Homo sapiens: one gene and its partners. The protein of the gene in region 3 purifies or fractionates together with the protein of the main gene of each other region. This does not show direct contact. Each region holds a gene or a part of one and is shown on either strand. Other genes may lie near its edges.

Evidence for each region.
Region 1: the proteins of DCTN4 (region 3) and ZNF74 purify together in Homo sapiens (co-immunoprecipitation; one large-scale study listed by IntAct). This does not show direct contact.
Region 2: the proteins of DCTN4 (region 3) and SEH1L fractionate together in Homo sapiens (co-fractionation; one large-scale study listed by BioGRID). This does not show direct contact.

What each region holds. Positions count from the first base shown.
Region 1 is NC_000022.11:20,406,553-20,408,955, forward strand, and holds the end of ZNF74 (zinc finger protein 74), read left to right. Parts: coding exon 1-416; 3' UTR 417-1,903; downstream 1,904-2,403. UniProt on the Homo sapiens protein: May play a role in RNA metabolism.
Region 2 is NC_000018.10:12,971,826-12,975,561, reverse strand, and holds part of SEH1L (nucleoporin SEH1), read right to left. Parts: intron 1-3,736. UniProt on the Homo sapiens protein: Component of the Nup107-160 subcomplex of the nuclear pore complex (NPC). The Nup107-160 subcomplex is required for the assembly of a functional NPC.
Region 3 is NC_000005.10:150,713,806-150,717,541, forward strand, and holds part of DCTN4 (dynactin subunit 4), read right to left. Parts: intron 1,858-3,736; coding exon 1,760-1,857; intron 1-1,759. UniProt on the Homo sapiens protein: Part of the dynactin complex that activates the molecular motor dynein for ultra-processive transport along microtubules.

The DNA of each region.
Region 1 (2,403 bases), on a different chromosome or scaffold from region 3:
AGGCCTTCAGCTGCCACTCGTCCCTCATCGTGCACCAGCGCATCCACACCGGTGAGAAGCCCTACAAGTGCAGCGAGTGCGGCAGAGCCTTCAGCCAGAACCACTGTCTCATTAAACATCAGAAAATCCACTCCGGGGAGAAGTCGTTTAAGTGTGAGAAATGTGGGGAGATGTTCAACTGGAGCTCGCACCTCACTGAGCACCAGAGGCTGCACAGCGAGGGGAAGCCCTTGGCCATCCAGTTCAACAAACACCTGCTCAGCACATACTACGTGCCTGGCAGCCTGCTGGGTGCAGGGGATGCTGGACTGAGGGACGTGGATCCCATCGACGCGCTGGATGTGGCAAAGCTCTTGTGCGTGGTTCCCCCCAGAGCTGGCAGGAATTTCTCCCTGGGGAGCAAACCTCGAAACTAACATGATGTGCTTTGGTGTCAGTAGCTGCTTTCTGAGCTACTCAACAAGGAAAGCACCCTGGTCCTCCCTGGCTCCTAGATCCAGACCACCTTCCTCCAGGTGTGGGAGCCTTGCCTTATCACCCCCATCAGGTCTGCATGCCAGGGTGCCTCCTCTAGTTAAAGTCAGTCACCTCCCCAGAAGGGCCACACTCCAGGAGGAGTGTTGAGAGTCATTTGAGGTAGTCTTGCCACCTGTTTTCCTTGATGGGCCTGGAAGTTGTTGACAAGGGGAAAGATCTTTCTTGCCAATAAAAAGAAGGGATATCGTTGGGTGCCATGGCTCACACCTGTAATCTTAACACTGTGGGAGGCCAAGGCAAGGGGATCACTTGAGCCCAGGAGTCTAGGACCAGCCTGGACAACATGGTGAGACCTCGTCTCTACAAAAAATGCAAAAATTAGCCAGATGTGGCGGCATGTCCCTGTGGTCCCAGCTACTCAGGAGGCTGAGGTGGGAGGATCATTTGAGCCTAGGAGGTCAAGGCTGCAGTGAGCCATGATTCACAGCACTGCACTGCAGCCTGGGTGACAAAGCAAGACCCTGTGTGAAATTAAAAGGAGGTATATCAACTGTTGTATCCTCGGACGGGCTCCTGACACGGCTTTAATCAGGAGTTTCCTCCATAAACTATTATTTTCAGAATAATAATAAAACAAGAATTATGACTAGCATCACTTTCCAGTGAACATTATTATATTGCTAGAGAGGAGAATAATCTTGGGTGGTGGGCATTTGGAAAAAGTGAATTTCCTGGACTTAACTCATGTAAATAGCTCTACTGCAGAGCTGTGTGTTTAGTGACAGTGCAGTCAGGGGCATTCCCACAGCTGTCACAGCACGGCCCAGCATCATTGTAGCCAGATCCTAACATGCCAACATCACCTCTTGCCATTTAGCCCCTAGTGAGAAATTGGGAGCTACCAGGCAGGTGCCCAGTGCATTCAGGGAAGATGGGCACAACATCAGGATGGGTGTGTCTGGAAGCTCCTCTTCACTGACCAGGGCTGGGCAGGGCCACCCTGGGCTGGTGAGGCTGCCCTGCAGGGCTTCTCACTATGTAGCACCAGTCACCAGCCCAGGTCACAGAAGAAGCCCCTCCCAGCACCCACTGGAGAGGGGAAGCTGAAGCCCAGGGAGACGGGCTCCATGGTGGTCCCACATGGAGCTGTTTTGCAAACCCTGGAAAAGGCGGCTCTCCCTGTCCCAACACTCTTCAGAGACAGGAAGACAGAGTTAATCTTGAATGAATGTTATTTCTACTTAGTCCTAAGCAAGAATAAGCTGCCCTCTTGGTGATCATACTTTATACGGAGTGCTATCGTTTATGAAATGCTTTCAGTATGCTTTTTAAATTATGCAGGCAAAATAACCACACTTCAGAAAATGTGGACTTCTGAAAAATAAAATCCCCATAATTCTTAATAAAACTGCCTTTTGCACTTTGATACATTACCCTCTGCTTTGTTCATGTAGAACTTTGCATTATTTTCAACACAGTGTATCTATAGTTTTTATCTTTTTTCCCTCTTTAGCTTTGTAGCAGATTTTTTTTTCAAGCATCTAAACTGTCCTCGTTATACTTCTTTTTTTTTTAAATTATACTGTAAGTTCTAGGGTACGTATGCACAACGTGCAGGTTAGTTACATATGTATACATGTGTCATGTTGGTGTGCTGCACCCAGTAACTCGTCATTTAACATTAGGTATATCTCCAAATGCTATCCCTCCCGCCTCCCCCCACCCCACAACAGGCCCTGGTGTGTGATGTTCCCCTTCCTGTGTCCATTGTTCAATTCCAACCTATGAGTGAGAACATGCGATATTTGGTTTTTTGTCCTTGCGATAGTGTGCTGAGAATGATGGTTTCCAGCTTCATCCATGTCCTTGTTATACTTCTAAACAGAGGCACAGTGTTCTCTCTGGTCTCTTAGATACTCTTTTGTT
Region 2 (3,736 bases), on a different chromosome or scaffold from region 3:
CACGCCCTTGTCTTTGCTCCTGCCTCCTCTCTGCTTGCAGAACACCCTCTGTCTTTCAAGATTCATGCTCAAACATCATCAGCTGAAACTTCTCACCCTACCAGGCAGGTATGTGCTGCCATCTCTAGCAGGTGACCATCCTCATCCATATCCTAGGCGCTGTAAGCTCCTTCAGCTCTTAGTACAGTCCATGCTGCTTATGAAATGTTGAAAAAGTGAGATTTTTTTTTTCTTACCTGAGGCAAGCTATATATTGTAATTAATTAAGGTGGCTGGGCACGGTGGCTCACGCCTGTAATCCCAACACTTTGGGAGGCCGAAGCAGGCAGATCACCTGAGGTCGACAGTTCGAGACCAGCCTGACCAACATGGAGAAACCCCATCTCTACTAAAACTACAAAATTAGCTGGGTGTGGTGGCACATGCCTGTGATCCCAGCTACTTGGGAGGCTGAGGCAGGAGAACTTCTTGAACCCAGGGGGCGGAGGTTACGGTGAGCCGAGATCACACCATTGCACTCCAACCTGGGCAACAAGAGTGAAACTTCATCTCAAAAAAAAAAATAAAATAAAAATAAAAATAATTAAGGTTATCTAAAGCTTCTCCTATCAGAAGGAGCCAAATAAGATCCTCAATGAGAGTGTAAATAAAGAGAATGAACAAAAAAGACTTTGTTTCTGGTCCTGACTCTGGACCTTAGACTAGTCATTCACTCTGTTGGTCTCAGTTTTCTCATTTGTAAAACAGTGTTAATAAAAGCTGTCTCCTCTACTTACAAGGTGGTTGGTAGGATTCAAACTTCATAACACACATAAAAATGCCCGGTAACCTATATAAACACATGGCACTTCTATTATCACTATCAATCCTAGATCTGTTTTAGTATTTTCACTCACAAATAAAAACAAATATATCCAACACTGGTTAATTTGGCAAATGTCTCCTGTCTACTAAATGGTGATACTACTTAGAAAAAGATAAACAGGCCGGGCGTGGTGGCTCACACCTGTAATCCCAGCACTTTGGAAGGCTGAGGTGGGCGGATCACAAGATCAAGAGATGGAGACCATCCTGGCCAAAATGGTGAAACCCCATCTCTACTAAAAATACAAAAGTTAGCTGGGCATGGTGGCGGGTGCCTGTAGTCCCAGCTACCGGGGAGGCTGAGGCAGGAGAATCGCTTGAACCCGGGAGGCAAAGGTTGAAGCGAGCCAAGGTTGCGCCACTGCACTCTAGCCTGGAAACAGAGTGAGACTCCATCTCAAAGAAAAAAAAAGAGAGAAAAAGATAAACAGGTATTAATAACGATACTACATAGTCCACTATCACATCTCCTCCACGTTCAATCTAAATAAGAACCTTCAAACAATGCTTACCTCAAAGAACCAGCAACAGAACTCCAAAAAGTGCTGAACTTAATAGGTTTGATTACTTCCCAAGTCAATAGCACACACCCCCACCTGCAGACACTCTTTCCCCAACACCACTTCCCCTCGTTTTTGATGCTGAAAATGCCAGACACTTGCTGTCTCACTCTCTTGCAGCTAAGGCATGGCTGGATGACCAAACTCCAGCCGCCAGCACCTGATAAGAAGCCTGCTAAGATACTTCTAGGAAAGGTGTTTTTTTCTAGAATACCCTTCTTTGTATTAGCATGTAAAACCTGACATTGTGCAGCTCTTTTGTGATCATAAGAGGGAGCTATCACCAGTGTACTAAGCATGACAGCAAGAAAAAAGTGGAAAATATTTAGGTAGGTCCTTGATGTCATCATTGAGCAACTGAGTCACTACCTAACCCCAGAACTGCTCCACCCTCAGGCTCCTTGTCACATGACATAATACAGGGAATCCCCCAGTCTAGATTTATTCTGTTAGCTAAGAGACTAGACTCAAATGCAATCTCAGATTATTTTTAACATTGGATTATTTAGGTAATTTAGAAATACTTAGGTAATTTCTAGGCCGGCCGTGGTGGCTCACACCTGTAATCCCAGCACTTTGGGAGGCCGAGGTGGGTGGATCACCTGAGGTCAGGAGTTCAAGACAAGCCTGGCCAACATGGTGAAACCCCGTCTCTACTAAAAATACAAAAATTAGCCAGGCGTGGTGGCACGCACTTGTAATCCCAGCTATTCAGGAGGCTAAGGCAGGAGAATCACTTGAACTCGGGAGGTAGAGGTTGCAGTGAGCTGAGATTGCATCACTGCACTCCAGCTTGGGTGACAGAGTGAGACTCTCAAAAAAAAAAAAAATAGGTAATTTCTATTTGCCTGTATTTTCTTTCAGAACTAACTGCAAGTTATTTATCTTTTTACTCAAATCTTACTTATGAAATATTTTCTTTTCCTATGTTTTAGAAAAAAATCTTTTTTTGACACTGCTGGAGTGAAGTGGTGCAATTTTGATTTACCGCAGCCTCGACCTCCCAGGCTCAGGTGATCATCCCACCTCAGTCTCCCAAGTAGCTGGAACTACAGGCATGCGCCATCATCCCCACAGCTAATTTTTGTACTTTTTGTAGCGAAAGGGTTTCACCATGTTGTCCAGGCTGGTCTTGAATTCCTAGACTCAAGTGATCCACCCACCTCAGCCTCCCAAAGTGCTGAGATGGCAGGCATAAGTCACCTCGCGTGGCCAATGATACACCTTTTACGTTTTTGGGCTTATGTCTACATATTCATTCTGCTCAGCTCAGGTTGAAATTTACTTTAACAAGCCCAACACTTCATGAAGCCTCTATAAAATGTGCTATTAATAGGGCTCATAGTTTTTACAGCTTAAAACTCCATGAAAATCTCTAAGACCATTTCCCATCACTGCAGCACATTCTACTGGACAGCACTGTTGAAGACTGAGCCTCTCTGCAGACACCAACAATCTAGGAAGGTAGAAGGTGTAAGATCCCCTTGGTAACCCAGATGGTAACATTTGGAATTGCAGAGCCCACGGGAGTAACACTAGTTCCTTCTCTACTGCTGGCCCTGCCTAAGATCTGACTATTAGACTCAAGAATTTTGTCTAGTACCTGCGAAGCCCATCTGATCACCTGACAAGTGCTCTCTTCTCCTGTAAGACTGAGTAGTGTGCCTCTGAGACACTGCTTTTGGCTCTCAGAAGCTTTGCAGACACTTGTATCTCGGCATGACCAAAATTAACTTACCTTCACATGCTGCCACACTCTACCCAAATCTGCCTTGTTCCCAGAGTTCCTTATCTCAAGAAATTACACACATTGAAATTACACACTGAACTCTTAAGCCAGAACCTTGGAAATCATCTTAACACCTTCCCCCTTCTTCCTCAGTTCAGTTCTCAAATCCAATCAATCACCAGATCCTATTGATACCACTTCTCAATTATTCTCAAGTTGTCCACTTATCTCCATGCCACTGCTACTACTATCCCAAAGCCACGTACTCTCCCACCTGGACTGTCTTCATAGCATCCTAGCCGTGAATCCACCATGTTTCCCTCCAAAACACTTGTCACACCTATAGAAGATCCATCTGATCCCATTATTCCCTATTCACATCACCTGTAAGATAAAACTGAAACAATGGACATTACTTCTTATAGATACAAGTCTTGCCTATTTCTCTCCACACTCATTTTTGCCCAGCATGTTCCAACAACAGTATAAATATACTCCCTCTCTCTTGCTCACGGCCTTACCACATGCAGTTTTCTCCACCAGGAGTGCTTCTGCCCTCTTTGTCTGGCTAACTTCTACTCAC
Region 3 (3,736 bases):
TTGATCATTCTGTCAAAAAACCGTAAATGGGCCAGGCATGGTGGCTCACGCCTGTAATCCCAGCACTTTGGGAGACCAAGTCGGGTGGATCACTTTAGGTCAGGAGTTCAAGACCAGCCTGGGCAACATGGCAAAACCCCATCTCTACTAAAAATACAAAAATTGGCCAGGCGTGGTGGCGCTTGCCTGTAATACAAGCTCCTCAGGAGGCTGAGGCAGGAGAACTGCTTGAACTCGGGAGGTGGAGGTTGCAGTGAGCAGGAGATCACGCCATTGCACTCCAGCCTGGGCGACAGAGACTCCTTCTCTAAAAACAAAACAAAGACTGTGAATGTTCCCTGTGCCAGTTTACTAAGCTATTATTTTTCAGCTCCAAGCGCACCTCTCTCAATTTTGCTTTGTGACACAGGATTCTGCTTGGACTGTATCTGCTGGATCGGATGGCTCTTTGTCAGGTTCTGTCAGCAGCGGGCTCTAAAGGGAGACTAGAAGTCTGGAGGAGGAAGGGTCTTGCTCTTCCTTTAGAGATTCCTGTTTGCTTGTGGTCCCTGTTCCCTGTGGCCATCACTCCAAAAATGTCTTTTTTTTTTTGAGACAGGGTATCACTCTGTTGCCCAGGCTGGAGTACAGTCACAATCACAGCTGACTGCAGCCTCAGCCTACCGGGCTCAACTGATTCTCCCACCCTGGTATCCTGAGTAGCTGGGACTACAAGCATGCGCTGCTACACCTGGCTATTTTTAAAATTTTTTTGTAGAGACGGAGTCTTAACTCTATTCCTAGGCTGGTTTCAAACTCCTGTGAAGCAATCCTCCTGCCTCAGCCTCCCAAAGTGTTGAGAATACAGGGGTAAGCCACCATGCCCGGCCCAGCAATGCTTCTTTACCCAGGAGGAAGTGGCAGTAAGCAGTTGAAGTTTTCCAATTCTTGTATAATCATGCCACCCCTCCTTTGCCATCACGAGATGCCAGGACCACGCAAGCAGTGTTCCCCTTCAGCTCACTGGAGGCCTGAGTTTCAGCTACATGGAGCTCTTTGTTTAAGTTCTAAATTTTAATAATTCTAACTATTTCCCTTTGTTCCCTCCACCTAAGGGGTGGTAGCTGGCTCATCAAATAGCTATCTTTGAAATTTTATGCCCATGAAGTAGCATAAAATTGCTACTTCAGTGTTCTTTTTCACTTTTTAAGTTACACAAGTGAACAATTATTTATATTAAATCCTCTGTTCGAATCATTGAAAACATTCAGTCTACAGACTGAATTCTCTGATGGTCACAGTCCCCAGTTACTGGAAGGTTTGGTTCTTTTCAGTTATTAGATATGAGAGAGTAAAATCTATTAATTCCTCCAAGGGGGTGGGGGTGGGGAACAAACCCGATGATCAATCTCTAGGGACAGAGTATTGTATCCTGTCCACAACCATTAAAATCATATAATTAAAAATTTCTTTATTAACATGGGAAAATATATTCAAGTGAAAAAGGCTAAAAAACTGTATTTATAGAATGATCCCAATGAGGTGAGAAATATTTGGAAGGACAAATGCCAAAATGCTAATGGTGTTTATCTCTGGTGGTGGGATAATTTTATTTTCTTCTTCATGGTCTTACATATATTTCCCCAATTTTCTACAATAATTATTTTTAGAAACAGGAAGAAAAAAGTTATTTTAAAAAATCCAGACAAGAAAACTGGATATAAGTGGGCATTCTATTATCAGCCATTTGTTGTATGGGGATCACAAAAAGATCACTCACTCAGGATCGTCCTGAAAGTCTTGAGGTTCTGCCAACTCATCGTACTCTGCTGCTGCATCCTTGCCAGCTAAAACGAGCTCTTTGGGAGGCACCACCACCTGGAGAGCAACACAGAGAGGCCTGCCTGAGAAGGGACCAGTGTGACAGAATATAGCAAAGTACGACATTGATTTAGACAAATGGAAGCACACAGCAAGTTTCAGGAAACATATACTACTTCTATGGAGTTTATAAGAACAAAGGTTTTAAGAGAAAGCTAAGTTAGTACTTACTTCATGGGGTCTGCAATGAGGAACTGGGGAGAACATGGGGGCTTCAATTGTGTCTTTAATGTTTTATTTTATTATTTATTTTTTTGAGATGGAGTCTCACTCTGTCGCCCAGGCTAGAGTGCAAATGGCATGATCTCGGCTCACTGCAACCTCTGCCTCCTGGGTTCAAGCGATTCTCCTGACTCAGCCTCATGAGTAGCTAGGACTACAGGTGCCCACCACCATGCCTGGCTAATTTTTTGCAGTTTTAGTAGAGACGGGGTTTCACCATATTGGCCAAGCTGGTTTCGAACTCCTGCCCTCATGATCCACTTGCCTCGGCCTCCCAAACTGTTGGGATTACAGGCGTGAGCCACCGCGCCTAGCCCTAATGTTTAATTTCTTAAGGGGATGGGGAGAAATGGGTACTTGCCATATTATTCCTCATTTTTTTTTGATACATCTGAAACAGTCCATCATTAAGAACAACACAAAGGAGAAACACTGGTTCCAACACAATGTTTTTTGACATGGTACCAGCTGATTCCTGGTACCTGATACATAAACTTACATGAGATACTGGGTGATTATGGTCATGGAAAACAATTAGCATTCTTCAGACTTATGTTGTAATTAGGCCTCAACTTTGCTCTATCAGAGGTTAACAGTTAACAGTGTTGATCAAATTTCTAATTATAGATACAAATGTGGGAGGGGAGGTATAAAGAGAGCTTTATAAAGATATGCTGTGCTTATGCATCAGGTACTTATTTCTGTCTGTCTTAACTGGAGCTGCTTATTAGTGTTAATAAAAAAAGGAACGTCAGGGCACAGTGGCTCAGATCTGTAATCTCAGCACTTTGGGAGCCCGAGGAAGGTGGATCACAAGGTCAAGCGATTGAGACCATCCTGGCCAACAGGGTGAAACCCCGTCTCTACTAAAACTGCAAAAAATTAGCCGGGCGTGGTGGCAGGCGCCTGTAATCCCAGCTACTTGGGAGGCTGAGGTAGGGGAATCGCTTGAAACTGGGAGGCGGAGAGTGCAGTGAGCCGAGACTGCGCCACTGCACTCCAGCCTGGCGACCGAGTGAGATTCCGTCTCAAAAAAAAAAAAGCAACAAGGACCAAATAAGTGAAATAAGTGTTATCTCTCTTTGGAGGTGATGCTAGTAAGTGAAATCATTAAAAAGCAGAAGAAAAAAAAAAAGAGGACAGAAATTCTCTAATATTATTTGAATAAGAACTAAAGATATAGGCATCTTTTTAAACCATTTCTATTATAAATATCATGCTGAATTATGAATTAGTAATAGATGATCTATAGAGAAAGGCTCTTGTTCTAAAATTTCAAGTACTAGAAGTAGCAAAATATAAAGAGAGGCCATATTACATCCATTCAACTCACACTGAGTCAAAATCACCTACTTTAACATTTAGTTATTTTGTTTTTTGAGATGGAGTCTCACCTCAGCCGCCCAGGCTGGAGTGCAGTGGCGCGATCTCAGCTCACTGCAATCACTGTCTCCCGGGTTCAAGTGATTCTCCCATCTCAGCCTCCCCAGTAGCTGAGATTACAGGCATCTGCCATCATGCCCGGCTAATTTTTGTATTTTAGTAGAGACGGGTTTCACCATGTTGGCCAGGCTGGTCTTGAACTCCTGACCTTAGATGATCCACTCACCTTGGCCTCCCAAAGTGCTAGGATTACAGGCGTGAGCCACCAAGC